Homo sapiens: one gene and its partners. The protein of the gene in region 3 interacts with the protein of the main gene of each other region in a biochemical or structural test. Each region holds a gene or a part of one and is shown on either strand. Other genes may lie near its edges.

Region 1 (8,338 bases), about 15 Mb from region 3:
ATGTAGCTATGAACACATGGCTCTTGGGATGCTCATAGTCCAATGGGTGAAAAGCATACAAGGGCATGTCTTGTCTTTGGCATAAGTGGGCCAGCACATAGAGTCTTCCCCCCAGGGAAACAGGAGCATGACTACAGGTTCTGCTGGTTTCTCTCTGGATACAATCATATTATGGGTTCTGTTTGCCATAGAAACTTGTGTGTATATATATATAGTATACACACACACACACACACACATATATATACACATATATATACACACATATATACACACATATATATACACATATATATATACACATATATATATACACATATATATACACACATATATATACACATATATATATATACACACACACACATACATAGGCACAGTAGTCAGCATATGACAGTCCAATGTAAGTTTTGGTTTAAAAAAAATCTATCATGAGAACTCATCAACATGGCCCCCAGTGACTGGTTTGAAAAGTGAACAATGATCCAAGCCAGGTCAACCACAGTCCTTCCCTGGAAGTTTTTTGAAGGAGATCTAGCCTAGTAAATCTGTGAAGAGGTGAGCTTAGAGGATGCTAATGGTCAGGCCTGATCATGTGGAGAAAAATTAGTAAGAGAAAAGGAGATGACATGCTGGAAGAGACAGAGAGAGTTCTGAGTACTTGGTTCAGGTAACAAAATTTCCTGGATTGTCCTGGTTCTTGCTTTCCCTCAGCTGTTCAGTTCTTGCTATAATTCTATGAGCTACCTCAATAAATTCCATTTTTGCCCATGTTAGTTGAAGTTGGAGTTCTTTTATTTCAGCCAGGAATAGAGTAACTATGGGAACCCACACACACACAAATATATGTATCTCTTTTTCATCTATATCATCTCATGGAATTCCAATTTTTCAGTCTTGCCAATTTCCAGGACTTGGGCAACATATTTTTCCATCTACATTCACTGAATTACCTCAGTGGGGATAGCAAAAGGGGCAGAGTCAATTGTCATGTTAAGAGCACTACCTTGGAGATACACAAACACATACACAAATCTGGATCCATATTTTAATGCTAATTTTCTTTCCTCCTTTCTTTGTGACTCAATTCTCATTGTCTTCTTTCTCTTTCTAAAATATAAACAAATTTCCCCTTCAACCTAAAATTGGGAGATAGTGAAGAAGCTCAGCTTTTATAGTAGGAATATAATAAGATTTCATTCTGAAACACTATGTAATCAGCCATTACTACCATACAAATGTTATTTTAGAAAAAATGTTGAATGTCTAGTGACTTCAGCAATTTAGTTTTTGGTCTTGGACCAGTCATAAGTACCATATCAGAGCCTGGTATGATCTGGGTTGACATTCACATCCTGAGCTGAACTCCTGAGCAATTCTTGCACTTTGATGCAAGTCAGTTATTTACCCAATCTTTTCCATATACCATTTGACTTTCATTTCAGAATTGCAAAAAGTATTCCATGGTTTTGGAGGCTAGATATTCTCCTTTGCCCTTGCTGGCAAGCAAAAATTATACGATGAAGTGATAAAATTTGAACCACAACCTAAAGTATTGTCTTTGTTCTTGATCAAAACAATTTTTTTTTCAAAAACCTATGAGAGGCCAGGCATGGTGACCCACACCTGTAATCCCAGCACTTTGGGAGGCCGAGGCTAGTGGATCACTTGAGGTCGGGAGACCGAGACCAGCCTGGCCAACATGGTGAAACCCCTTTCTACTAAAAAAAAAAAAAAAAAATCAGGTGGACATGGTGGGGCATGACTGTAATCCCAGCTACTCAGTTGGCTGAGGCAGGAGAATAGCTTGAACCCAGGAGGTGGAGGCTGTAATGAGCCAAGATCTCACCACTGCACTACAGCCTGGGCAACAGAGTGAGACTGTCTCAAAAAAAAAAAAAAAAAAAAAAAAAAAGAAGAAGAAGAAAATAAAAAGAAAAAAACCTATGAGAAAACACCACAATTAGGATAATCTCTTTTGATTACATATTTGAGCAAATTTTATTGAAACAGAACTTCATTCATTGGATGTTCTATTGGATATGCTATTGGTAATAGCATCTTCTTTTTAAAGGATAAAATACACACAACTGATGAAGTTGCGGTGAAGTTTAGCCTTTGGGATTAGCTTTACCACCTTGAAATACACATCCCTTTCTGACAATATCTACAAACTTCTGCTTTTCCTATAAATAGTCATTGACCAAAAGAATCTTTCCATTGACTTGCTGTCTCTAGATAGTTGCTGCAAGTCTAAAAAAACTTGAAGTGTACCCATACCAAACCTATCTGAGAGGATTGCTCTAACACACTGTAAAACTTACATTGGGAGGAAGAAGGCAGGCAGCCTGGGTTTCTCCACCTTTCCCTTACATCCTAACAATGGCCCCCACTCCTGCACCTCAGTGCTTGCACTCACCTCCAGATTTTACATGATACTTTTTTCTTACTTACAACTCCCTATATTCTTTAGAACTACCACTTCAAGCCCATTCCAATTAAGTTCTGAACTCTGAAATTTCACCTCTGTAAAAAAAAAAAAAAAGTCTTTCCTAATTAACCTCATTAGATTTTGATTTCCTACTTAGCAGCCTTTCAGAAATCTCCAACATGTTACATCTTTGGATGCATCACCTGGTCTTTCACTAACTTGTTCTCTGTGCATTTGGTACAACTCCCAGTTGGCTGCAAACTTCTTTGATGCATCTGCCAGCCCTTTGGTAGTAATAATACTAATACTAAAAAGCTAACATGCAGGTCTTATTATGCTCCAGACAAAATGCTAAGTAATTTACTAGCAGAGTATTTGAATACTGTCTGGCACATAGTAAGCCATTAATACAGGTTTGTTATTATTACCATTTATAGCTCAATTAACTTGGCATTATTATTCTCTCCATTTCAGGATAAGAAAACTGTGAGGCACAGAGAATTACATAAATTGCTCAGAGTCACAGAGCTCATTATGTGGCACAAACAAAACTTGGTGCCCATCTATTTGACACGAATACCCATCAATGTTCTTAATCATTACAAAACATTTGCTAAACACACACACACATGCACACACACACACACAAATCAATCCTTTTTGCAATAATACCCCTCCAGTTTTCAGAGCAGTGTAAGTTGTACTCAAGGCAGGTTTTACTTAGGAATTCATTCCCCTTTTAAAATTTAACTGTCTTAGAGACATAAGAAAAAAGTCACAAGTATTTGTATCTCCCTGAAGAATTTCATTTTAAAATTTAGAGGCCACTGAAGTATGTGTCCTTAGGGAGAACAATGGGTTTTTCAAAACTTCTAAATTGCTAAGGAGCTGTGTTTTGCTTTTCAACTATTAATATGCTACTTCAGTCAGTCACCAGTACGTCATATTTGCTTTGGTAGAAAGAGCTAGGCCATGTCCAGGGCTGAGCAATAGAAAAAGTTCATGAGTATATTGCTAATAGAAATGATTAATAATACATTACAGGCTCAACCCTGATCATACCATGCATCTTCTTCCAGTTATTTTGAGTACATTTTCATTGGATGCTCACAATTGCTCTCTATTGTAACAGCTTTTCTCCTGGTCATACTGTGAGATTATACAGGGAGAAATGCCCACTTCTGATGTTGTTTTTCCTGAGTTCTAAAGAAGGCGTTCCCTTTCCTCCCATCTCCTTTCCTTTTTCTCTGCCTTCTCTCTCTCATAGGCTGCCCTGCCCTTTTCTTCCTTCGCTGTCTGAGCTTTCTTGAAGGGAACCAAGGGTCGTAGATCCCCCAGGGCTGGGCCCTTCTGAAAGGCTCCATGGTCTCTGGAGAGCAGTCAGGTGACAGACTGAACCCAACCGGGCCCAGTGACACAACTTCCCACTTAGGCAACTACACAGCCCCCAGATCCCATTCCTGGCAGCTTCAAAACCCTGGGCTCCGCCACAACCAGGCACAACTGCCTCCCTCCAGGTTTCCACTTGGGTGAATGAATAGGCTTGAAGGCGACTCCAGATGCAGGAGGCGCGTCGCGGAGAAACGTGTCATTTAGGAGAAAGTTTGTTTCCTACAGAGACTGCAGTTGGCAGCTGCAGCCCCAGTCGGTTGCGAGAAAAGCTCCCCACCTGGGGAAGCGAGGCCGCTCCCGTGTGCGCTCGGCGGGGAGGACGCGGTGGCGGCGGGACTCGAACTCGGTCGTCGAAGGGCGCCCCGCAGGGTCCCGTCTGTAGCCCGGACGGCGAGCCCAGGTTGGAGTGGGAGGGAGCCGGCGTGCACAGCTGTCTTTGGTCGGGCTCAGGCTTCCGCTCCCTGCCTGCTCCCCTTTCCAGCCTCCCGCCCCAGAAACGATCTCGAGCGTTGCCAGTTTGATTCCAGAGCCCCACTCGGGTGGGTTCTTTTGTTTCTTTGTTTTAATGACAGTTCCCAGCCCTTCAGCATGTCATGCGCAATTAATTCCCTGGCTCTCACGAAGGCAGCTGGGGTGAAATTTCTTCTGCATCATCCTTTTGGGGATGTTTATGATGTGACGTCAGTCGGATTGATTTTTCTCTCTTGAATGAAGGATGGGAGGGGAGAAAGAGAGACGGAGAGAGAGAGAGACGCACAGATGTGCACGGAGGCCACAGACACTGACATTTGGAATTCCTTCAGGGTAAAAGGACACCGGAATGGGAGCTTAGAAGTGTGTTGCTAAGATTTCCGGCTGCACGGAATTATTAAGTTTTTCTTAAAAAAACAAAAAAAGAAAGAAAGAAAGAAAAAGAAAAGAACCCCCTCCGCAGCGAGCCACTTAGGTGCTGCTTTCACGCCAGAGTCCCCTGTTAAGGTGGCAGCCCTTGATAACTAATCTCGGGCACCCAGCCGCTTCTGTAAGCTTAAGGAGACGACGAGGAGGGGCGGGGGAAGTGCGTCACCAGGTGGGGAAGGGGCTGTGTATTTGGTGACAAGCGGGAGGCGATGGGGGTGGAGGGGAATGGGGACGGGAAATAGGTTCTGTGTGCTCTCCGGGGGTATTGTGTCAGGAGATGCAGGCTGGCTACCATGTGACGCGGTCCAAAGCTGAAGGGATTGGCCGAGGCAGCGCAGGCGGTGCAGCTCGGCCAGCTTGCCGTTCCTCTCCCTTTCTCTCAGCATCTTCTTGGTAGCCTGCCTGTAGGTGAAGAAGCACCAGCAGCATCCATGGCCTGTCTTTTGGCTTAACACTTATCTCCTTTGGCTTTGACAGCGGACGGAATAGACCTCAGCAGCGGCGTGGTGAGGACTTAGCTGGGACCTGGAATCGTATCCTCCTGTGTTTTTTCAGACTCCTTGGAAATTAAGGAATGCAATTCTGCCACCATGATGGAAGGTAGGATGCTTTCTGCTATGGTTGACTGGCTTCAGGCAAGGTTTGGGCAGAACAGCATTAAAGAATATGTGCAGCCAGTGTATGTGGCGGTTCTAGAACCTGGTTGCCAATGTTTTGCAAGCAGAAATGCTGCAGTTTGCTTGCAGTGGATCTGGGCTCAGACTAATGGAATCAAACCACAGGGCTGCTGCCTAGCTCAGAACCTACAGAGCTCCCAGCTCCTTTGAGAGAGAAAAGCCTAAAGTGTTTGCAGGGAGCTGAGATGGAGCTAGGAAAGAGCTTGCAGAGCAAATAAGTTGGGCGAGAAGATAAGGTTTTCTGTTCTGGGTTCCTGGGACTACACTGATTAAACATTTACAATGGAAACTTGTTTTCTGAAATTGACATTAGACAGGAGAGGTCATTAACAGAGTTATCCATACAGACATTTTCAGTGAACTGTTTAAAATTGTAAAAATTCTCATAAGGTATTTTTATCTCTGCAGTTTACATCATATTATTGGGATGGGGAGGGCAGCAAATTTGGTCCATAAACTGTAGTTGTATGAGAATGTCATTGCAACAGAATGAAAAATATAAGGAAAATATCCGGGCCTCTTGCCTCCTGATTCGGGGTCTTATCAGGTTAAAAAAGAATTTTGTGCTCCCTAAATGCTTTCCCTGTCCAATGGATTTTAGCCAAGTATCAAATGATTATTTGCTGATGATCTTTTCGCATATTCAATATTGAGTGTAAGGAGGAACTTTCCCTGGAGAGATGCTATTTAAACTATATTTTATTCTGCTAAATTACCCTTCCCAGTCTGACACTGTGACAGCCAAGATTGTCTCCAAAAAGCAGCAAGCTGATCAGGAAAGAAGCAAGCAGCTCTATGCAGGCTTTGATTTTCTGTTTTCACACTATAGGATGGTGCAAAACTCCTGGCCTTTCCTAAGATGACAGGCAGAAATTTGTCCCCAGCCTGGATTTCACAATGCAGAATTGAGTGCATAATGGGTCTCAAATCAGCCATGAAAATGGCAGAGAGGCCACCTCTTAAGCCAAGGTTTGTCCTACGGATTTTAACTATTCCTTAGAAATTTACCAAAATGGAATAAGAGGAGGAAGGTTTCATAAAAACAGCAGTGTAGCCTGTACTTATTTGGCAGAAATGAATTCTTTTTGCTCTCCCTGTCATCATGTCAAACATTGTTAATGTGATTTGGGGGAGTGAAGAATTCTAGAGTCAAAACCCACAGATTTTAGAAGATAGCCTTAAAAGAGAGGTTGGGTATGATTTTGTTATGGAGCTGAGTCTTGTTTGCAAAAGGCTCTCAAGCTAGCCCTTTAAATCCAGGCCTAAATAAATTGAGATTGCTAACACTCTCAGATTAAATCATTTTCATTAATTCAAAATTGATTTAATCTTTGAATAACAAGGCAAGACAGAGTGTTATTTATGCACTTTTCAATTAAAAGCTCATGTGGATTATCTTCTTCAGAAAAAATATCTTGCCTGTAGAGGTACTGTATTTCTCCAGCTCAACTTCATATAGCTTTCTTAAAAATGCATCTGCACACATTCTGATTAGATTTCAGTGTTGCATAGAGAATTGGATGCTCTTTCTTTTCACTTCTTGCCTTGCAAACCATGGCACTAAAGTATCTTCTTTGAAGGTTGTAACGTTTTTTGATGCTCATGAATGATTCTCCTGGTAATATGGTCTATTGTGCCATCCAAGAATGTCAGTTCAAAGCTCTGTGATAAGCTTATCCAGGCTGCCTAAACCAAAATGAGAACTGCAACAAAGACTTGTGCTGGAGCTGAATTAGCACTATTGCTCTGGGTTTGCCAAATTTATCTAATGAACAATGTTATCTTAGCACTGGTATGAATTAGTATGAATTATACTATGGATACAGTTGTCTTTCACCAGATCTTTTGCAAGAGAAATTGGACAGGTGTTCCCACTGGCTTAAATAGCTAAATGAAATTAACATTTATTTCTACCCATAGCTCCTACTTAAATGTTTTTAAGCCTTATTATCTTAATAGTTCGGTGACCTTAGAAAGGCAAATAGGAGTTTAACCAAAAATCAATTTGCTATCAGTTGCCTTCCAACTTAGTTGACAGTCTTTTTGGCAATATACATTCATGTTTCTGGTATTGCATGGCAGAATTTCACCTCTGAATTGCTCTTATTCTGAAGGTGTGGTATATAATTATTATTTCAACTTAACTCATCTCTAGAGATTGCCAGCCTCTGTACATCTACCACAATAACCTTGGAAAGATAAGGAACCTCATAAAAGGCACCCCAAATTTGTCATGGCAGCTCTTCGTTGAAACATTAGTGGACTCTGAGAATGTGCTACCAAACATCTAGTTAAAATCATATTTCTTCTGAACTAGTGTGTCTCACACACACACAGAGTCATCCACCCAAACACATTTCTGGAAAGGAAGAAAACATATATTTGCACTCGTGTGGCTGTACATTTCTATATTGCTAAAGTGTTTTAGTCTGCTGCTCAGAAAAAGCATGGCCATGGCAACTTTTCAAAGGCACTTCTCTACTTTGTGTAAAGCAAGAGTAAACAAATATTCAGCAGAATGGGTCATAGTAAACTACGTTTTGTTTGTGTGGAACAGGATATAGGCTCCATTCATTCAATGCCTATTGGAAATCCATCCAATCATAGATGATAAATGTTACTACCTCCTCAGTGATCCTAATTTTGTGGAAGTCAACGAAATAATTCCCCAGGGACCACAAGCAGGTGATTAGTGGTTTGTGGCTCCATGGTTCTTTTAACATATTTTAATTAAAAAACATATTTTAGGGGACTTGATTTGCTGCTTCCTGCATACTTTATCTTTTGGCAGTGGTTGGCATTGAGTTGTTTCTTTTCTAAAGAAAGCCACATGATCTGGAGCCTTCTGTAGTATAAATATGAAAGGAAAGATGATGAGCAAAGGGAATTATTAACTATGGAGTGTACATATTGGCTAAGCTTACAATGAAGTCTATGT
Region 2 (7,515 bases), on a different chromosome or scaffold from region 3:
AGCTCCTGAAATTTGCCTTGCCTTTCCAGTAGTTTCTTAGAAGTGGCTGGTAAATATTCCCACTGCTTCCCCAAAGGGCAACTAGAAGCTTGCATGTCAAGGCTTGAAACCTTGCATAGAGTCTTCTAAGCTGTTGGCCAGGGCTGACATGACAGAGCCTAAGTGATAAAGAGTTCTCCATGGCTGCTTACAAAAGCACAGGTTGCTGGTTATCACTTTACCCCAAGGCTTGTAACAGTGAATTGAACCATCATAAGCACTACCTTAGAAAATTTATTCATTTAAATTAATATGGCATACTAATCTATTAAAACAATTTTAAGCTGGAATTTGCAACATCTTGCTTTCATAAAAACAGACATTTGGGCCGAGTGTGGTGGCTCATGCCTGTAATCCCAGCACTTTGGGAGGCTGAATTGGGTAGACCACTTGAGGCCAGGAGTTGGAGACCAGCCTGCCCAACATAGCAAAACCCCATCTCTACTAAAAATACAAAAATTAGCCAGGTGTGGTGGTGCGTGATTGTAGTCCCAGCTACTCAGGAGGCTGAGGCACGAGAAGTATTTGAGCCCGGAGGCAGAGGTTGCAGTGAGCAGAGACTGCGCCACTGCACTCCAGCCTGGGTAACAGTAAGACTCTGTCTCAAAAACAAAACAAAACAAAAGACTTATTTGTATGTAATTGTTAGTAGTGTAATTCTGAAAAGCTTTTAAAATCTGCTCTTACAGGGTGAAAGGTTGAGCCATGCAGTAGGCTGTGCTTTTGCAGCCTGTTTAGAGCGCAAGCAGAAGCGGGAGAAGGAATGTGGAGTGACTGCTACTTTTGATGCTAGTCGGACCACTTTTACAAGAGAAGGATCATTCCGTGTCACAACAGCCACTGAACAAGCAGAAAGAGAGGAGATCATGAAACAAATGCAAGATGCCAAGAAAGGTACAATCTGTTCTACAGTGTGTATTTATGGAATGCAGTTTTTCCCAACAAGGTATTATTTTGAAGCTACCAGGGGTAAATTTTCTCATAATCAAAGAGAACCCTTAGCAATATAAAACCTTATAACAAAGTTGAAAATCTTAAAAACCGCTTCCTTTAGAGTGGCTAGTTTAATGGCTTCAAAAATATTTACTCCATTATAGTAAGCTATCTGAGGAATCAGAGTGCAGTTGAAGAAGCTGCAGAGACATCTCTTACCCCCTTCCTCCCATCCTGAAATACCTTTTTAATTCTGATGTATCTGATCTCTTTGAGAAGCAAATGAATCAAGTACCTGCATCTTAAAGGAAGCAGCAGAGGTCCCAGGGCTTAAGGCTGCAAAGCATCCACGGACTATGATGCTAGCAGAGAGATTTAACAGTAATACTGTTTATATGATATTATTGCTGTTTTTTAGTGCTTTCTAGTCACAAAAGTCTATAGATTTTGAGAGGTAAGCCTATAACTCTTTTTTTCTATAGCCCTGTTAATTTAATTTAGTGTGTGATTTTATAGAGTGTGAGTTTTATTTAGGTACACATGGCATCACAGCAGAAATGCCTGTACAAACATTCAAGTTAGTTGGCAGTCTATAAATGTGAGTTGGGTATATTTTACAACTAAATGATAGGGCTTGAAAATACTTTTGAATTCTTGTATATAAGTAGGGTTAAAACCAACAAGACAAGCACAAACAATTCAAGTTAACTAATAGACATTAATATAATTTTGAGGCCAGGTATAGTGGCTTACAGCTGTAATCTCAATACTTTAGGAGGCTGAGGAGGAAACATCACTTGAGGCCAGGAGTTTGTGACCAGACTGTGCAACATAGACTCTATCCCTTAAAAAAAAAAAAAAAAAAAAAAAAAAAAAAAAATTGCCATATTTGGTGGTGCACATCCGTAATCCTAGCTGCTTGGGAGGCTGAGACCAGAGGATTGCTGGAGCCCAGGAGTACAAGGTTACAGTGAGCTGTGATCATACCACTGCACTCCTCCAGCCTGGGTAACAGCAAAACCCTGTCTCTTAAAAACAAACAAATATATATATATGATAATTTTTTTTACTATAACCTTTTAGTTCTAAACTAGTCATTTTTGTTGTTGTTGTTTTGGTTTGATTTCGGTGTTTTTTTTTTTTTTGAGACAGAGTGTAGTTCTGTTGCCCAGGCTGGAATGTAGTGGCGCAGTCTCCGCTGACTGCCGCCTTCACCTCCTGGGCTCAAGCGATTCTCCTGCCTCAGCCTCCTGAGTAGCTGGGATTACAGGTGAATGCAACCACACCCAGCTAATGTTTGTATTTTTAGTAGAGATGGACTTTCGCCATGTTGGCCAGGCTGGTCTTGAACTCCTGACCTCAGGTGATCTGCCTGCCTTGGCCTCCCAAAGTGCTGGGATTACAGGTGTGAGCCACCGCACCTGACCTTAAACCAGCCCTTTTGGTTAGCATCATTGACTAATACTGACCCAAACAGCTCTAATTCTTAAGCCCCCTCCAAAAAAAAAGCATACATATTTTTATTTGAAATGAAATTATTGATAGTGATTTTTTTTCATTTCTTGTAAATATTTGCACCAGGAAGCCAAAGGGGGGAAAAATCATGCTATCTGTACTAGAAAATTTAACCTGTATTACTGTTATCTAATATGCTTTAGTGGTCTTCAGACTATTCACTAATTAAGCATGTTCTTTAATACCACCAAATAATATTCATTGTTATGCACAACAACTGCAAAGAGATTGAGTCCCAAGATCTACAAAGGATTGTGAGAGTTGGTGGTTGAGATTTGTCACAATCAGAATGGGACTCAACTGGTACCCACAGTCTTACATTTACTCAAATTTAATCCAGTTCAAAATTTTACTACTGCATGCTTTTATTCAAATGAACCACAAATGCATGATTTAAAGACTGCTTTAGGTCGGGCGTGGTGGCTCATACCTGTAATCCCAGCACCTTGAGAGGCGGAGGCAGGTGGATCACCTGAGGTCAGGAGTTCATGACCAGCCTGGCCAACAATGGTAAAACCTCGTGTGTATTAAAAATACCAAATGAGTTGGGCGTGGTGGTGTGCACCTGTAATCCCAGCTACTTGGGAGTCTGAGGCAGGAGAATCACTTGAACCTGGGAGGTGGAGGTTGCAGTGAGCCAAGATGGTGCCATTGCACTCCAGCCTGGACAAAAAGAGCAAAACTGCATCTCAAACAATAAATAAATAAATAAATAAATAAATAAAGACTGTTATATATGACATTCTTTGACACCTAATCAAAGATATATGGTTAAGCTTATGCTTATTTAGACCTTTCTAATGCTACAGTTCCCAAAGTTCTCCTCCCCTAACACACAAGCATTGAAAATCATGAATCATTCTTTAAAAGACTACATATTAGGAATTCATAGGAACTGAGTTTTTAAGATCTTTTTCACAGTCTTAATTTATAAATCACTGAATGAGAATAAAAGATCTAACATTTCTGTCTTAGTAGATATGCTTTGTGACATATAGTACATTACTAAGCCTTTTATCTGTCTGAAAAATGGATCCGAACCCTGCTTCTAACTTATGTTTTAAGAGACACTGGGAAGGAAATGGGTAAAAGGACCTAGAGGGCTTTCGAATTTGTCAGCTCTCTAAACGCAAATTATTTGAAGACATTGCTAAGGTCTTCATTCTCTTTATTTTCTTGAGCTGAAACAGATAAGATAGTCGTTGGTTCATCAGTTGCCCCTGGCAACACTGCCCCATCCCCATCCTCTCCCACCTCTCCTACTTCTGATGCCACGACCTCTCTGGAGATGAACAATCCTCATGCCATCCCACGCCGGCATGCTCCAATTGAACAGCTTGCTCGCCAAGGCTCTTTCCGAGGTTTTCCTGCTCTTAGCCAGAAGATGTCACCCTTTAAACGCCAACTATCCCTACGCATCAATGAGTTGCCTTCCACTATGCAGAGGAAGACTGATTTCCCCATTAAAAATGCAGGTAATGTAGCATCTACCTGACTCACTGGGTACTCGAGCACTGAAGCATTCTCATCACTTCCCATGAAGACACTAATCCCATTAAACTAGGCATTCCTCTTTCCCTGAGGTTCGTTGATAGTTGTATCTTTTGTCATTTCCCATAGTGGGAAAACTAAGGTCCGTGGAGGGGGATGTGAATCCATAATTTCTCTTCAACAAACAGGCAGCAGAGCCATTGTGGAATTTCTAGCCTAAGCCATAAGATTTGTGGTTTGTCCTGATGTAAGTGCATTCACTGCCTTTCAGCCAACCTGCTCCCAAACATCAAGGGTCTCAAGTTTCTATTCTTATTCTGCCATTGGGACCCAGCAGGGAATTAATTAAAGAGGCCTTAGAAACACATAGCATTACCAGCAGAAGAAATGGATATGTGCTCATTGTCCTTCTGGCTGGTTGGCTCCATAAGGAGGAAACTCTAGACAGGTCTTTCGTGTACATCTAAGATCTGTTGTTCATCACAGACAGTGGACTTGTTCACAAGTATTCATTACCTTTCAGAACCGTCTCACAGGCCTTTGTGTGGCCTCTGTACAGCTATGCCAGCCTCTATAGGTCTATCCTCGTCATAAAATCTGTAGCTAAAGTATTAGATCTGGTCAGTGCTTTTGTTGGGCTCTATTTTACTTCCCTCTGAGACATGTCAAGCCATTGCTATAACAAAATATGAGGAAACTGTCTCAATAGGCCATTCCTACTGATGGTATAAAAGTACAGAGAGTTAAGTTCATCTGACAGATGAAACTAGGCCTAAAGAATAGTTGGACTAGATGATTACGGAGGGTCTTTTCAGTTCTCAGCTGAGGTACCTCATTTCAGTTCAGTCTCCTTCTAGGGCAGACAGGGAATAAAAACTATTATTCTCTTTACAGATGAGCAAACAGAGCTTTAGCACACATAATTAGCTTCCTCAGTGATACAGAAGTATCCTAGAGTCAGTATTAAGAATAAAGGCCCTAGCGTCCTACACCTCTGCTCACTTTTTCATGTTATCATAGATCATATGCTTAGTACTGGAGACTTTGGAGAAAAATGAGATTGATGACATTGTCATAGTTTGTTACAGAGAAAAGCACTAAGCATCCACTAGTGCCCAGACTTGAACCCATTTTCCTGACAGAATTACTAAAGGCTCCAGAACCTAATTCAGATCACAGTCTTGAGAACACGTTGGAAGGCATACAGGTTGCAAATGTCTTCTACAAAGATCTGGCTAGCTGAACATCTTGGCACAAAAAGGACAGATCCTCAACAGTGTTATAAGAAGAAGAAATGAAGAAATTTGGGGATTTGTAAGGGAGGAAGATGTGCCTTAGTACATTAATTGTTGACATTTTATACTTTCCCATCTGAAAAGCCAATGAAATTGTGGCCAGTAAATTTTTTGAAACTGGTTTTGTAGCCCTGCCATACAGTTAATTGAGCCTTTTCTTACATAAGCAGGAGATACAGTATAAAGTGCCAGCTTGCATCATACTGTCAAATTTCAGGATTATTCCATTTTTCTGTCTGGAGCCATTTTCTGTTTGCCTTGCAGTGCCAGAAGTAGAAGGGGAGGCAGAGAGCATCAGCTCCCTGTGCTCACAGATCACCAATGCCTTCAGCACACCTGAGGACCCCTTCTCATCTGCTCCGATGACCAAACCAGTGACAGTGGTGGCACCACAATCTCCTACCTTCCAAGGTTGGTGCCCTCTGACCTGCTCAGCTGTTCTCTTTACAACCAGTACTTTTAGTACACTGCTCACTAACTGTAAGTTGGCATCCTGAGCTTCCCAAGGCCTGGTCAGACCCATTAATTTCTCTATTTGATGTCTTAGATTCATTGATTTCTCCATTCGACGATGTCTTTGTGCCCTTCCTGTTTTCTAAGATGTCTGTGTTTGTCATTCTGCATGTGCCCATCTTTCACCCCATTCTATAAGGAATTTCTGTAGTCCCAACCTACTGCCTTATTTCCCACTTGACTGTTAAGGATCAGCATACCCATCCAGTTTCCCAAAAGCAGTAGTCATCAGAATTGGTTCAAAGGTTATGCTTTCTTTAGTGTAGTGGTTCTCAACTGGGGCAAAGTTTGTCTTTCACTGTCTGGAGACATTTTGGGGCTTTACAAGTTGGGGGTTGGGGGTGTTACTGGCTTGTGGTTAGATGCCAAGAATGCCACTAAACATCCTTCAGTGTAGACGACAGCACCCACAACAAAGGATTATCCAGCCCAAAATGTCAGTGGTGCCAATGTTGAGAAGCCCTGGACTCACCTAGTCTCTGCCCTGTCAAAGAGGCTAATAAAGAAAAAGGCACTCCTTTGAGCTCTTTAGTTCATCTTCTATAACAAGTGTCTTAAAATTTGCCTTTGTGGCATTGAAGAGTTAAAAGTTGTTTTCAGAGATACTGACTAAATAGTGGATATTGACTCAGAGGTCAGCAAAGAATTTATGTAACTTAAGTTACAGACTTGTAGAATTTGAGCTGCTATAATTGCTGTTTCTCCATTTCTTTTGAAAGAGAGCTCAGCGGAAGTTTTACTCCAGAGATAGTGCCCTGCTTCTACTGGAAGAACTACACACTTTTTCTCCAAGGGTCTTTTTCTTTTTCTTTTTAATAAACCTTCATAGTCATGTGTACCAAATGACTTTTCATGTCATCTAACAAACATTTATAATACCGGTAATAATAGGCACCATTTATTGAGCACTTACACATTGCTTGCCACATTGTGGTAGGTATTCATGCATTATTTCATTTAATCCCCACAACAAGCCTGTGAGGTAGGTGTTACAGATGAAAAAAAAAAAAGAGGCTCAGAGAGGATAAGTAAATTGCCCAAATCTTACAGACAGGATTTAAACTCAGGTCCTCCTGAATATAGTACCCGTTACATTCTGCTGATTCTGCCAGCCTACAAGGCACTAAGTGTGCAAAATTGAATATTTCAGTTTCCTTTCCCTGCCTTTAGAGGGCTCCCAGTTTCTAGGTGAAAAAAAAAATTTTTTTGCCACCAAAAAAGCAAAGGCAGTCTTTTAGACAAACTCTAGGTAAACAGTACCAACACCGGCTGGGTGCGGTGGCTCACATCTGTAATCCCAACAGGGAGGCTGAGGCAGGCGGATCACCAGAGGTCAGGAGTTCGAGACCAGCCTAGCCAACATGGTGAAACCTCGTCTCTACTAAAAATACAAAAGTTAGCCGGGCATGGTGGCAGGCACCTATAATCTCAGCTACTCGGGAGGCTGAGGCAGGAGAATTGCTTGAACCTGGGAGCCGGAGGTTGCAGTGAGCCGAGATCACACCATTGCACTCCAGCCTGGGTGACAAGAGCGAGACCCCATCTCAAAAAAAAAAAAAAAAAAAAAAAATAGTACCAACACCATAGGCATGGCTGTCCAGTCCTAAAAAGGATATAATTATATTGTAGGTCAGGGGAGGGTGCTTGTCTACACCAAACTGAATGTTATTGAGAGCTGGGCTAAGGAGAAGAAACTAATATAGGTATCTGGAGTAAAAGGAACAAGGGT
Region 3 (7,515 bases):
TACTGAGGATATATATACTCATGAACAAAAATAGTTAACAATTCTTTGACCTTGGAGACAAAACCTGGAACTTATTTCTGCTAGAGGAGTTTGAATTAGCTGATCTAAGGACCTTTCCAACTTTTAAGATCCTGTTTTATAGACAGTGTTCTATGATTTATAGACCTAGTGGACTTTCTCTGGGTTCTTTAGTGCTTTACAGCCTTAAATGTTTTCTAATTCAGTTGTCTTTACTAGGTGTTCTGTTTACTTCTTGTCAATGAGAAGTAAAACCTGAGGGAGAAAGATCTTGATTTTTGCTTCTGTTGGTAGATTAGAAAAAAAGCATGTAATACTTAAAAAAAAAAAGTTTCCAATAGTCAGTTTTACTCCCTAACGCCCATATCCCTAATAATAATAATACTGTTAACTTCCCTTTGGGAATTACTATATGCCAGGAATTTTACTACACTTAGAATCTAACGATATGTTTTACAAATTAGAGAAGCTAGTAAGTAAGCTAGTAAGTGGTGAATCTACGATTTGAACCAAGGTCTGTAGGACTTCAAAAGCTATTTCACTGTTCTTCTCTATGTACTAGATGCTTGGCCTATCCAACGCTCCCTTACATTTTTTGTTCTTTTTTTTCGGCATATGCCATTGTCTTAAGTAGTAAGCCTCTTGAGGATATAAGCCATGGTTTTTGCCTCTGAATCTCTAGTGCCTTTGATAATATCTTGGATGATACAATTGTGTGTTCAAAGTTAGTGCTATTGATGATAAAGGTTTTATTTTACTGAGATAGGATTTGAATATTTAAAATAGTCTTTTAGCAATTCAGCTTTATACTGGTTTTCTTGCTTTAGTTTAGCAAGAATTTTTTTTTTTTTTTGTTTTGTTTTGAGACAGGATCACACTCTGTCACCCATGTTGGAGTACAGTGGCATGATCAGGCTCACTGCATCCTCAACCTTGTGGGCTCAAGGGATCCTCCCATTTCAGCCTCCTGAGTAGCTGGGACTACAAGTGTGCATCGCCATGCCCAGCTAATTTTTAAAATTTTTTTGTAGAGACAGGGACTCACTCACTATGTTGTCAGATTCTTTTTTTTTTTTAAAGTAATAAAAAAGCCCTTAAGTAGGGACTTAATTTTAAAAATCCTAGTATATAAATGGTATAACAACAGTTCTAATGCTTTTTTTGTTAAATTACAAGAGTGATATAACTGTATTACAGAAAACTTGGAAATTAGAGGAAAACATCTCCCATAATTTCACAGTTTGTAGTGTTTATTTTCAGTTTCATTTTTTAAACAAGTACGCAGTACAAGTGCTAATAAACATATCATCTTAGTAGTCTGGTTTAACAATTATGACAGTAAATACAGGTTAGTTTGAAAATGACAACATGTTCTCAGAAGCAGAAAAGTGATATTGTTCTCAACATGACAGATATTTGAGTTCCTACAATGGGAAAGGCACATTAATGATGTTTTTCTTTATTGCCTATAATTATGGTTCGATATACTCAGGAAATCTCTTGAGAGAGATATCTAACCCTTCTCAAAGATGGCTTGAAATGTTCAGCACTTGGGAGAGGTTGTCATAGTTAAAATTAATTAGGAACAAGTTCATCCAATAGCAAGTCTCTCAGGAATAATCTAAGAGTGCATTCCTTTGTTTTCACTCTATTTGCAGACAGAATGCTAGTAACAGACTAACGTGTAATAGAAAAAGATTGAGTATCATTAGCAACGAATCATAGTTCAGAATCTCTGCAATCTCTAATAGTGTGATTTTAAAGGCCTAATCTAAGATATTTTACTTGTTCTTTAGGGAATTACAAAAAGCACTTTATATACTTGTTTGTGAGTTTGGGGCTTAATAAAATTGGGAGCAGAAAAGATAACTATTGGGTACTGGGCTTAATACCTATGACACAAGTCCACTGATGTAATAAACCTTCACATGTACCCTTGAACCTAAAATAAAAGTTTTTAAAAAAAAAATCAGTACTCTGGAAACCAAAACCAAGTAAATGGCCTGAGAGAGATCTGGTTAGTTGGAGAACTGGTAGAAATAATAAACGAAAAGTTACTCCAGGCAGAGTTCATTAGGCAAATTCATATGCTGGAGTTTCATTTTTAAAGCAGTTGAATCAACAAGGTATGCCTTCATTAATTATATTTATTAGGTGTTTTTAATAATCTGAGGAATCTTGTAAATTGAATGCTGTATTACAGTAAAGTGAACTTTTTTTATTTAGACAAATGATCTAACCCAGTTAAGCATGCGTAGAAGAAAGCCTGGAAGAAAAAAAACACTAAAATTTTATAGTAGCATGGTTGTAGTTTTTATCTACCTTGTTTTCAACAGTGAGAATGTATTCCTTCTGTAATCAACTGATTTAGCTTTTCTCTATGGCATTTTTGAGAATTTATTCATTTAAATTGAATACACAATAACTACGTGTAAAGTAAAGCTTTGTGTTCTAAGATTGTGTCTACACTTAGTTTTCATCCTAAACATTTAGAGAAATTGATTAGAGGAATGATAATAATTATATTAATTGATTTGGACAATTCAGTTAGAGGACTAATTTATAATTTTTTGTGCTGCTTTATAACTTAACAAAGCGTAACCTATGAACTAAGCTATTATTATCATCATTTCAAATTGGAGGATACTGAGGCTCAGAATTTGGGACTTAGGTTTTATAGTTAGTAAATTAAAAAACCAATATAAATTCATGGTTAAAAAAATTCATACAATGCTAGTGAAGTCTTCTTTCTGCTTTAGGCCCTCATTTGCTTTCCCAGAGGCAGCCATTCTTGCCAGTTTCTTGTGTGAATTTCCAGTAATAGTCTGTGTATATGCGAATAAATATATATGTATACTGTATATGTATATTCTTTTGTGTAAGCTGTTTATTGTTTCACAGTTTGTTGTTATATTATTTTTAGCTTAACTGATTTAGGAGATTGCTCTATAACATCACATATAGATCTCCCTTATTGTTTTCAAAACCTCAGGGTATTTCTATATGTGAACTTACTGTTATTTATTTTACTGGCCACCTAATGCTGGACATTTATTTTGTTTTCAATCTTTTGTTACAACTATGCTGCAGTGGATACTCTTTTACATGTTTTTGTGCACATGTGTGAGCATATGGATTAATTTCTAGTAGGTGTAATTTTTGGGCCAGAGGATACTTTTAATCTGCATAGATACTGCTAATTTGGGGTAGGCATAGTGGCTCAGGCCTATAATTCCAGTGCTTTGGGAGGCTGAGGCGGAAGGATTGATTGAAGCCAAGAGTTCAAGGCCTGGGTAACATAGTGAAATCCATCTGGGACAAAAAAAAAATTTTTTTTAATTAGCTGGGCATGGTGGTGTGTGCCCGTAGTCCTAGCAGGCTACAGGTGAGCTATGATTAGCAGGTTACAGTGAGCTATAATTGCACCACTGCACTCCAGCCTAGGTGACAGAGCTAAGACCCTGTCTCCAAAAAAAAAAAAAAAAAAAAAAGATATTGCTCATTTACATTCAGAAACACTGTAGCAGCACACATGTTTGAGAGTGTCATTTCCTCCACAGCTTGATCAACATGTATATTATTGTCAGTCCAGTAATCAGAAAGATTTCAAACAATTTCATTGTTTTAGTTTGTTATTTCTTTATGGGTAAGGCTGAACTTATTTTTTTTTCCTTTGAAACCATTTGTATTTCTTTTTTTATAAACTGCTTTAGTCTTTTACCTGTTCTCTTGATGGGCTGTTTGTCTTCTTTCTCACTGATTTGTAAGAACTCTTCTTATATTTAGGAAATTTGCCCTTCTTTGCAAAATCCTTTGCAAAATTTTTTTCTCTGAATTTTTTTTTGTTTTTGGCATTTTTTGATTATGTAGAAATATTTGTTTTATATGTTTAATTTGTCAGTCTTTTCTCTTAGAGCTTCTGCAAAATCTAGATTTTTAAACTTCAGGAGCAGAGGCAGACTAATATAACTGCAAGAGCACACCTGTTCTGCCCCTGAGTAGTTCTGTGATCTTGGGCAAATTACTTAACCTCTTAAGTGCACTCATTTGCATATTAGAAATAAACTACTGAGACTTCTTGGGTATTATTGAGACCTCTTAAGCATGTTGTGATTACAAAATGAACTGGTGACTTATTTTCTTTAGCTACTCCTGTAGTTTCCCAATTTGTTAAAAGCTGGCCTTGTACCCTGCCTCATATACTCTGCTTTCCTATCACATAAATGTGAACTTCTGAATATTTTGTGCAAAAGTAGGATAGAAATGAGGTAGAAGAAACTCATTTTTGTGATATAAATAAGGCTTTCAAATGAATCAGAGGTGCAATTAAAAAATAAAAGTTGGGCTCTTTTTAAAACTTGTTTTTATGTGGTAAAAATATACAAAGAAAAGTAAGCCTCACTTCCTCCCTCCTTTAAACTGGGGATTATTACAATGGGAATATAACAGTACCAGGAGTTTTTCATCTGAAATAATCAAACTGCTTATTCCTTACTAAATCTGCAATAAGAATACAAATTTGACCAAGAATGCTAGGATAAGAACATATTTTTTGGAGGAAGACGTTTATATTACAGTACTTTATAGTTTTTTAGATCATGGTTTCTCAGCCTTGGCACTTTGAGATTTTGGGCTGGAGAATTTCTTGTTGTGGGAGGCTGTTCTGTGCATTGTAGGGTGTTTTGCAGCATCCTTATCCATTAGACGTAACACCTTCACCAGTTGCAGCAATCAGAAATATCTCCAGACACTGACAAATATTTCCTAGAGGATTAAATTGCCTCTGGTTTAGAATCACTGGTTTATTTATTTATTTTTATTTTAAAGTTTTAGTACTTTTGAGAGAGAGTCTCGCTCTGTCGTCCAGGCTGGAGTGCAGTGGTGTGATCTTGGCTCACTGCAACCTCCACCCCTGGGTTCAAGCAATTCTCGTGCCTCAGCCTCCCGAGTAGCTGGGATTACAGGCGTGCATCACCACGCCTGGCTAATTTTTTTTGTATTTTTAGTACAGATGGATTTCACCATGTTTTCCAGGCTGGTCTCTATCTCCCGACCTCAAGTGATCCTCCTGCCTTGGCCTCCCAAAGTATTGAGATTATAGTGTGAGCCACTGCGCCCGGCCAAATCACTGGTTTAGATATATACTTATTTATTTATTATTATTTTTTGAGGCGGAGGTCTGGCTCTGTCGCTCAGGCTGGAGTGCAGTGGTGTGATCTCGGCTCACTGTAACCTCTGCCTCCCGAGTTCAAATGATTCTCCTGCCTCAGCCTCCCAAGTAGCTGGGATTATAGGCGCCCACCGCCACACCTGGCTAATTTTTGTGTTTTTAGTAGAGACGGGGTTTCACCATGTTGGCCAGGCTGGTCTCGAACTCCTGACCTCAGGTGATCCTCCCTCCTCAGCCTCCCAAATTGCTTGGGATTACAGGCGTGAGCCATCGTGCCCGGCCTAGATACATACTTTCTGTGGTCCATTAGGACATACAAGATATACTTTCTAGGGGTGAGGACAGGGGAAAGAGTTTATCTTCATATTTTTATTCTTAAGCCTGCCATGAGCCATGATTGACTCCTTGTGCATAAATATTGAGCTTAAAAAACTTAAATGAGAAGGCAACCTGAAATTGTGAACTTAATTTTATGTGTGATTTCTGTGCCTTTTTTAGTGTGATCTCCTCCCTCTTCCGGCTCCACTGTAGTTTGGAAACTTAGTGTGGTCTTCTTTTAGTTGTGGAACAGTTCTATCTAGTGGGCTAAGTATCAATACAGAGATCCTGGAAGGAAAACATTCTTATGCCACTGTTGAGAAGGAAGAGGACTGATGCTTCTAGAACACCTAATAAATACTAAATACTTTTAGATGATCTACATACATTATTTCACTTAATCTTCATAGCCTTTCTACAAGTAGGCATTAATCTTCTGTATTACTTGCTCACGGTTGTATTTTAAGTGGGAGAGTTGAGACTTGAACCCAGGCACATCTGTTCTCCAAGTACATTTGCTATGCTGCTTCCTATAGTCATTGATGATATTTCAGTCAAATTTTGGGATAAGAATGAACATTCATGTGATCTTACATTCCTCTATTGTTATGTAAAAGAAATTATCCAGTGGTGTGTGTGTGCGTGTGTTTGTGTGTATTGGGGAGGAGGTCAATAGTGGGATAATAACAATAATACTTACTGAGCACACTTACGTGTCATGTGCTATTTTCAATAATCTTTACAACCTGATGAACCTTTCAGTATTCTTTACAACTTGGTAATCCTTATATCCCTGTTTTACAAAAACAAAACAAAATAAAAAACTGGGACACAGAGGTGAAGTAATTTGTTCAAGGTCAAACTGCTGCTAAGTGGTAGAGCCAGAATTGTAACCCAGTAGTCTAAGCAACTCGGATATTGATTGAATGAGTCTGCATTTTTAAGGGCAAAATGGCTCTGACAGAGCTTATTGTGGTACCATTCCTTGGTTATAGCTGAACATATGTTGTAGGCTACTACATCTTCCTATGTGAAAATCAACTTATCATTGCATACACCACATCTCTAGAAAGTGATTGTTGCACGAAGTTATAGTGGAAAGTTTTTGTAGACATAGTAGAAGGTAGTTTTTCATTTTGCAACCTCCAGATTTATTGCTCATGAAAATCTAAGCTTGTCTAGGTTAGTGTACATCATACCAATATTTACTTTTAAGCTAATATTCTCTCAGACATGGTTATTTGGACTTGGAGTTTCTACAGTATTGTATTGCTAAAGATAAAATGTATCAGAGACTCCCTATAAAATAGACTTTTATTGACTAAAACCTGGAACCATTAGCTGTAATGATTTCTGATCCTCAGATGAACATTTTTGAGAACTAGCATAAAATAATGAGAGAGATCTTGGGCTCTGAAGTTAGAATGTCTTAGGTAAATTGATAGATTTTAGTTATATGAGCCATTAATTTTTATGAAATGTTGCACTTAATTAGAATTTTGATGGATCATTTATACTAAGGATTATTGATAACTTCATTCCATCTTTTGTTCTGTAGGTACAACATAGATATAGCATTATGCATATATAAAAAATATGAAATTATATGCATTAAAGGTGCTTCCAGTATTGATGGTTGATCCTCTGTTTCAGAAAACATTTACTAGATGCCTCCTGTGTGTCACTACTCTAGTAAGCCTTGGACATACAGAATAAGACCATGACATTTGCTCTGAAGTAGCTTTTGGTTTTTTAGGGAGATAAACACTGACTTTCTTGTGTGACAAGTACTGTGATAAAGGATGATAGAAGTAAGGCAAGGGGGTGCCATGAGAGAATACTGTGATTATGATGAAACTTTTGGTGGTAATATAGTTTTTAATTATTTAATGGTTTTATAGGATCCAGGGTTGTTACTGTAGAGGATATTTAAACTGTACTTGAAAGGATAACATAAATCTATAGGAACATTTGATTCAAGTTAAATTGTATTTTGGTGCATAGAGTTC
Region 4 (7,515 bases), on a different chromosome or scaffold from region 3:
TACTAACAATACAAAAATTAGCTGGGCTTGGTGTTGGGCGCCTGTAATCCCAGCTACTCAGGAGGCTGAGGCAGGAGGATCACTTGAACCCAAGAGGCAGAGATTGCAGTGATCCAAGATCGCGCCACTGCACTCTAGCCTGGGTGACAGAGTGAGACCCTGTCTCAAAAAGAAAAAAAAAGTAAATAAAAGAATGCATCTCGAATGGTGCAGCTGTGAGCTAGAGTTCCCCAGATTATGCCCCACCTCTTGCTTTAGGCATGCATGGAGGTGGAACCCTGGCTCTCACCACATACTTCTTTACTCTTGATTTTCAGTCCTGGATCAGTGACATTCGAGCAGGAACCGCCCCTTCATGCAGGAACCACATCAAATCAAGCTGCAGCTTGATCGCCTTCAACTCCGACCGTCCTGGTAGGGAATGGCCATGAGTGTGGATATTTGCTCACATATTCGGTCATCGTCACCATAGATGGGGTGGGGAGCAGGGGCAGGCTTGGTGTATTTGGAGACTTGGAACGGAACTGCTTTGGGGGGCTCAGAGGTGAGCCCCATGCCAGACCTTAGACCCCCACAAACTGGTCCAGGCGCAGTAATCTGATTGCTTTTGATTAGGACATATGTGTGTACAAACCACAGGCAAGAGCATGGCCAGGAGGGCTGGGAGGGGACTGACGCTTGTATTTCCAGCTGTCCCTCTGTGCTCCCTGCTCCTCATCTTTGGGCCCTGGATGGCTGGGGACAGTAGGAACAGAAAGGCTTGAAAAGCCCGTGTGTTGGTTGGCACTCTCTTGATTGCTAGTGGTAACTCAGACCCTCAAGCTGGCTTAAGCAAAAAATGGATAATGTTTCAGCCTAACTAAGAGATCAGGGGCTTCAGGCAGATCGGTGCCCAAAGGCTCACATGTACTGTCGGCCCTGACCTCTCTGGGTCTCTCAGCTCTGCCACCTTGGGTGTTGGCTTCTTTCTCAAGTAAAAGTGCGAAAAGTGGCTGACGGTAGCTGCAAGCCCCATACGAAAGCCCCACGCCCCTTTCGTATGACCCGTGTTAAAAAGAGAGGACCTCTCGCCTAATGTCTTCTGTATCCATCTGAGGCATGGATGGCTCATGCATGGGGCCAGAACCTACCCACAGGCCATTGCTACGTGCAGAGGATATGATCTTGTGATTGGTAGAGGCTCTGGGAAGGTCCGAGGCTGAGCTGCTGGATTTCATCTCTGGGATCCCTGGGCAAGGAGGTGGGTGGCCCTGTGGGGCCTGAAGTCAGAGTCCCCGTGTTTGTTTAACAGGTGTACTGGGCATTGTGCCTCTGCAAGGCCAAGGAGAGGACAAGCGACGCGTGGCCCACCTGGGCTGCCATTCAGGTGAGTGGGTGTCTGACTAGTGGGTGAAGCCTGAAACTTGCACCTCCCTCTCCAGGGCCAGAAATTCATCCTCACCTGGTCCCACTGCCGCATGGCTTGCCAGGTCCCTCCTGTCGCCCTGTCTGTGCACTCTCTGAGAGACAGTGGGGCTCAGAAGGCTTCCTCCTGGTGTAGAATTCCGGCCTGGGCAGTGAGGAGGGAAGCTGTGTGCTCCGGTTGTGAGCTGGATGGAGCGGGGTGTGCAGTGGCCGCCCCAGGCTCCAGGCTGATGCTGGCTCCCTGTCCCTGCCGAGGACTCCACGTTGGATGGCTCTGAGCCCTCCGTCTTCTGCTGGAGTCCCCTCTCCACCAGGCATCCTCCCCAGCCCAGCCGCTCGGGGCCCTCCAAGGAGGTCGCTGTGTTGGGCTGCAGGGGTGGAGATGGGCCCTCACAAAGAGACCTTTTGTGTGCCGCAGCTGCTTCTGGGGGCGTCCAGCAGCCTGCCTGGCAGGCTGTCCGCCTCGAGGGAACAGTTTGCTCGCCTCAGATGGAGGCAGAGCAGCCCAGCTGGCCTCGCCTCTCACTGTCCAGCTGCAGCGGCCGCGGGCCCAGTCTCTCTGGCCTGCATTTCTGGCTGCTTGTTTGGAGGCCTTCGGGTGAGGGAAGGCAGTTGATGCCTGGTCCTCAGGCTGGGTGTGCAGGGTCGTGGAGGGGTTCTGATATGATAATGATGGTGGTTAATAACAATAGTAAAGATTTATGGAGATTGCTCTCTGTACTAAGTACGTTAGCTGAGTTTTCTCATCTAAACTTTTTTAAAAAATTTTTAAAAAGTATATAGAGACGAGGTCTTGCTATATTGCCCGGGCTGGTCTCAAACTTCTGGGCTCAAGCAATCCTCCCAAGTCAACCTCCCAAAGTACTGGCATTACAGGTGTGATCCACCAGGCCCAGCCAACGTTACCTGTTTTTTGTTTGTTTTTGTGACAGGGTCTTGCTCTGTCACTCAGGCTGGAGTGCAGTGGCATAATCATGGCTCACTGTAGCCTTGACCTCCTGGGCTCAAGCAATTCTTCCACCTCAGCCTCCCAAGTTGTCAGGACCACAGGTTTATGCCACCACCCCTCCAGCTAATTTTTAAAAATTTTTTGTAAAATGGGGTCTTGTTATGTTGCCCAGCCTGGTCTTGAACTCCTGGCCTCGAGCTATCCTCCCGCCTTGGCCTCCCAAAGTTTTGGGGCCCCGTCAGATTACCTGTTTTAAGTAAAGAGCCTGATGATTCTTATTAAAGTGACCGAGTCATGTGCACTGCCATCCAGTTTTGGAACGTTTCCATCATCCCCAAAAGATCCCGCATGCCCCTTTGCAGTTAATCCATTTCCACCTCCAATACCACAGCCTCAGGCAACAGCTGATCTGCTTCCTGCCTCTGTGGCAGAGGTCTGCAAACTACTGTCACGGCCAGATCCAGCTGGCTGCCTGTTTTTGTAAATAGTTTTATTGGAACGCTGCCACGCCCATTCATTGATGTATAGTCTGTGGTTGCTTTCTTGCAACAACTGCAGAGTTGAGTTGTGACCGAGACTGTTGAGCCCTGAAATCCTAGAATATTTACCGCCTTGCCCTTCGCAGGAGACGTTTACTGGCCTCTCCTCTATAGAGGGGCCTCTTTTGCGCATCTCACGCAAATGGAATCGCACAATACACGGTCTTTGGAATCTGGCATCTTTCACGTAGCATGTTGTTTTAGAGATACATGTGTGTGGCAGCTTGTATAACAAGTCTGTTCTCATCTAATCTCAGATCTCTTTGAAGTAGGTTTTAAAACAACCCATTTTATAGCTATGAAAACTGAGACTCCTGCAAGGTTAGGAACTTACCCATTGTTATGGCAGGGCCAGAATCAGAACCCAGGTCTATAGGAGCCTGTGTTTGGGTTTGTCTTTTTAGAGACAGGGTCTCTGTCTCTGTCATCCAGGCTGGAGTGTGGTGGTGCAATCATAGTTCACTGCAGTCTTGAACTCCTGGGCTCAAGGGATCGTCTATCCTCAGCCTCCCTAGTAGCTGGGACTATAGGCACACACCACCATGCCCAGCTGATTTTTTTATGTTTTGTGGAGATGGGGTTTTGCTGTGTTGCCCAGGCTGGTCCTGAACTCCTAGCCTCAAGTGATCTTCCCACCTTGGCCTCCCAAAGTGCTGAGATTATAGGCATGAGCCAATGTACCTGGCTTCATGTTTGACTTTTTGATGCTTTTTATCTATGAGGGAGCTAGCCCAAGTTGGTGATGCTTGCAAGGTGGTGAGCCCTCTGCTACTAGGGCTCTTCAAGTAGAAGCTGGACCAGGGTCCTGTAGGCAAGTCCATAGCCTCACTGTGGCTGCAACTGTTCAGAGCCTTGCCTGCATGAGCAGCCCTGCCGGGAAACTGCTCATGGGAAGGTGAGCTCCAGCACCCCTGGAACCTGCCCTAGAGGCACCAGGTGCCCTTCTGCCTCAGAGGTGCCGGTGTCGGGAGAAATGGCCAGGTGGGGCTCTGGCTGTTGCCCTGCCTTCAGAGGCCCCTTCAGCCTCTCAGCTCAGGGCCACTCTTGCCCTTCCGCCCAGCAGCCAGGGGAGCAGAGGGTGAGCAACTTCTGGGTGCGTTTCTGATGTCCAGGCTGTGGGGCGGCAGCTGGGGCCCGCTCCAGTGGGAAAAGGCAGCAGCATGTCATGCTGAGCAGCACAGGTTCTGAAGCTGGCCCTGTCTCTTAGCCGCGTGACTTGGGGCAGTTACTCACCCTCTCTGGGTTTTGGCGTCCTCATCCTCCAGTAGGGGATGCTGCTGCAGTGCCACCTGCTGCATCCTTATGAGGATTCAGTGAGGTCCCTGCGTGTCAACCCCTGGGCATCTGTGGTGCCAGCACATGCTGAGCACTCAGATTGCTTATGTCATCACATCTCATTCACGCCTGAGATGCCAGCCCGCCTGTGCCAGCTGCTACACCTGCCCAGGGACCTGCTTTGCCCTGCAGGGCCCAGCAAGCACACCCCAGAGTGAGGGCAGCAGGGGTTCTGTGGCTTTAGGCCCAGGAATGTTGTGGTCCTGCCAGCTGGGATTCCAGGCCAGGGCTATCCCAAGATGTGCCTGTGCACGTCCGTCCTATCTTTTCCCTGTCTCCTGAGGCCGGGAGGAAGACAGTCCTGCTCAGCCCTGTTGGGAGGCAGACAGCAGCAGGTGGTCGCTGTGCTCCCAGCTCTGGTGATACCTCTCGTCCTGTTCACACCCCGAAACCCCGCCACCCTCCATGCCTAGTCTCTACCTCCCCAACCACCCACCGCATTTCCCTCTGGGGTCTGGCTCACTCTGTGCACCCCACCTACCCCTCCCCACCTCTGGAGCTGAGCCGTTCAAGTTCTTAGTATTTAATTTTTGAGACAAGGTCTGGCTCTGCTGCCCAGGCTGGAATGCAGTGGTGTGATCTCTGCTCACTCCAACTTCTGCCTCCTGAGTTCAAGCAATTCTCCTGCCTCAGCCTCCTGAGTAGCTGGGACTATAGGCGCCCGCCACCACACCCAACTAATTTTTATATTTTTTGTAGAGACGGGGTTTCACCGTGTTGCCCAGGCTGGTCTTGAACTCTTGAGCCCAAGTGATCTGCCCACCTTGGCTTCCCAAAGTATTGGTATTACAGGCATGAGCCACCATGCCCGGCCACCATTCAGGTTCTTTGGTTGCAAAGAACTAAAGCCAACTCCGGCTTGCTTAACCAAAAAGCAATTTCTTAGTTGAGTCCTGGGGACCTTCCACGACTGAAGGAGCAGTGGGCTGTGCTGCCCTAGGAGGGGTCGGGCTGGGCAGCTGCGTTCCTGCAGGTGCCTGGTGACTCAAGCGGCTTCCTGCCCATTTCCTGCCAACCTCCTGATGCCAGAGCCCTTGGCCACCCTGGGTCAGCAGGGCCCTCGGGGACGTATGTCGCAGGAGGGGCCTGTGGCATTTGCCCCCATGGTGTCCAGAGGGCCCTTGTAGACTTGTAGCCTGTTTCTGTGTGCACACAAAAGTGTCACCTCGGAAGCCCTGGGCTTTGCTTCATACTGGGTTGGAAACAGGACATTCCGGTGGGTTCAGCCATTCCTCTCCCACAGACCTAGTCACCGACTTGGACTTCTCGCCCTTTGATGACTTCCTCCTGGCCACAGGCTCGGCTGACAGGACGGTGAGTGGAGCCAGTTGGAAGAGCTGCTCTATGTCCCAGCCCGTAGTCCAGGGCCTTCTGAGCCCCAGCGCCATCCCCACAGGGCTCTGCTGCCTCCCAGTCCAGCCCCACCCCACTCCCCAGGGCTGCGGGGCTGGTCTGAATTCCTGGTCCCACACTGGCTCCCAAGGGCTTGCTTGGAGCCGTGGCTCTGACCTGACCTGGAGCCCGAGGACAGCAGGTGGGGATGCTGCCAGAAACAGTAGAGCCACTTCCCCAACTCTGGGACCACACCGTGTGGTCTAGGAGCTGAGATTCCCTCCCTCCTTTCTCGGATGTGGGGTATGCAGCCCCTGGCCCAAGCAAGCTGAGGCGGGTGGGCGCTCCTCCCAAGGCCAAGGTGTGTGGTCTCCTGGAGCAGCCTAGTTCCAACACGGGACCTCACTGGGGTCACGGCAGCTGACTCAAGGCAGTGAGGCCCTCAGCCCTGTGCTCACGGACTTGGTCTTTCTTGCAGGTAAAACTCTGGCGACTGCCAGGGCCTGGCCAGGCCCTGCCCTCAGCACCCGGGGTGGTGCTGGGCCCCGAGGACCTCCCAGTGGAGGTACTGCAGTTCCACCCCACCTCTGACGGCATTCTGGTGAGCGCAGCAGGCACCACTGTGAAGGTCTGGGACGCAGCCAAGCAGCAGCCCCTGACAGGTACAGGCCACCCTGGCCTGCCCTTCCCAGGGCAGCCCCACTCTGGACAGCACTCCGTTTCTTTGTTGGCATGTTTAGTCACATAAATTTAAAAACAGATATCAAAGTTTTACACTTACATAGTATAAAAGTCTTAAGATTCTATGAGGCTGTAATAAACACCCCATCTCTCTTTGCTCTCCGTAGCCATCAGTTTCATCCTCTTACCTGTTTTTTTTTTTTTCTGTTGTTTTTCTCCATTTAAAAAAATAATGGCCGGGCGCGGTGGCTCATGCCTGTAATCCCAACACTCTGGGAGGCCGAGGTAGGTGGATCACCTGAGGTCAGGAGTTCAAGACCAGCCTGGCCAACATGGCAAAACCCCGTCTCTACTAAATATACAAAAATTAGCCGGGCGTGGTGGCACACACCTGTAATCCCAGCTACTCAGAAGGCTGCGGCAAGAGTATTGCTCCAACCCAGGAGGCAGAGGTTGCAGTGAGCCGAGATTGCACCACTGCGCTCCAGCCTGGGTGACAGAGTGAGATGCCGTCTCAAAAAAATAAAAATAAAAAATAACTTTGGCCGGGCGCGGTGGCTCACGCCTGTAATCCCAGCACTTTGGGAGGCCAAGGCGGGTGGATCACGAGGTCAGGAGTTCGAGACTAGCCTGGCCAACATAGTGAAACCGCGTCTCTACTAAAAATACAAAAACTTAGCTGGGTGTGGTGGCGGGTGCCTGTAATCCCAGCTACTCAGGAGGCTGAGGCAGGAGAATTGCCTGAACCCAGGAGGCAGAGGTTGCAGTGGCTATGGAGAGCGAAGAGAGATCGTGCCATTGCACTCCACCCTGGGGGACAAGAGCAAGACTCCATCTCAAAACAAAAAACAAAAAACAAAAAAACCAAAAAAAAACCTTCTTGGATGGGCGTCGTGGCGCACACCTGTAATCCCAGCACTTTGGGATGCCAAAATGGGAGGATCGCTTGAGCCCAATATTTTGAGAATTAGTCTGAGCAACATAGTGAGACACAATCTCTACAAAAAATTAAAAAATCAGCCAGGCGTGGTGGCGTGTGCCTGTCTGTGTCCCAGGTACTCAAGAGGCTGAGGTGGGAGGATTACTTGAACCCAGGAGGTGAAAGCTGCAGTTAGCTATGATCACACCACTGCATTCCAGCCTGGGCAACAGAGTGAGATGCTGTCTCAAAAAATAATAATAGGCCGGGCACGGTGGCTCATGCCTGTGATCCCAGCACTTTGGGAGGCCGAGGTGGGCGGATCACTTGAGGTTAGGAGTTCGAGACCAGCCTGG

Evidence for each region.
Region 1: the proteins of EPS15 (region 3) and SGIP1 form a complex in vitro, tested with the Homo sapiens proteins (2 studies listed by BioGRID, with this or other methods).
Region 2: the proteins of EPS15 (region 3) and NUMB form a complex in vitro, tested with the Homo sapiens proteins (2 studies listed by BioGRID and IntAct, with this or other methods).
Region 4: the proteins of EPS15 (region 3) and CORO7 form a complex in vitro, tested with the Homo sapiens proteins (one study listed by BioGRID).

What each region holds. Positions count from the first base shown.
Region 1 is NC_000001.11:66,529,046-66,537,383, forward strand, and holds the start of SGIP1 (SH3-containing GRB2-like protein 3-interacting protein 1), read left to right. Parts: upstream 1-5,107; 5' UTR 5,108-5,313; coding exon 5,314-5,323; intron 5,324-8,338.
Region 2 is NC_000014.9:73,280,528-73,288,042, reverse strand, and holds part of NUMB (protein numb homolog), read left to right. Parts: intron 1-728; coding exon 729-933; intron 934-3,668; coding exon 3,669-3,962; intron 3,963-5,537; coding exon 5,538-5,684; intron 5,685-7,515. UniProt on the Homo sapiens protein: Regulates clathrin-mediated receptor endocytosis. Plays a role in the process of neurogenesis.
Region 3 is NC_000001.11:51,508,838-51,516,352, reverse strand, and holds part of EPS15 (epidermal growth factor receptor substrate 15), read left to right. Parts: intron 1-7,515. UniProt on the Homo sapiens protein: Involved in cell growth regulation. May be involved in the regulation of mitogenic signals and control of cell proliferation. Involved in the internalization of ligand-inducible receptors of the receptor tyrosine kinase (RTK) type, in particular EGFR.
Region 4 is NC_000016.10:4,406,207-4,413,721, reverse strand, and holds part of CORO7 (coronin-7), read left to right. Parts: intron 1-317; coding exon 318-414; intron 415-1,291; coding exon 1,292-1,366; intron 1,367-5,470; coding exon 5,471-5,541; intron 5,542-6,037; coding exon 6,038-6,221; intron 6,222-7,515. Other genes in the region: CORO7-PAM16 protein, read left to right, coding at 318-414, 1,292-1,366, 5,471-5,541, 6,038-6,221. UniProt on the Homo sapiens protein: F-actin regulator involved in anterograde Golgi to endosome transport: upon ubiquitination via 'Lys-33'-linked ubiquitin chains by the BCR(KLHL20) E3 ubiquitin ligase complex, interacts with EPS15 and localizes to the trans-Golgi network, where it promotes actin polymerization, thereby facilitating post-Golgi trafficking.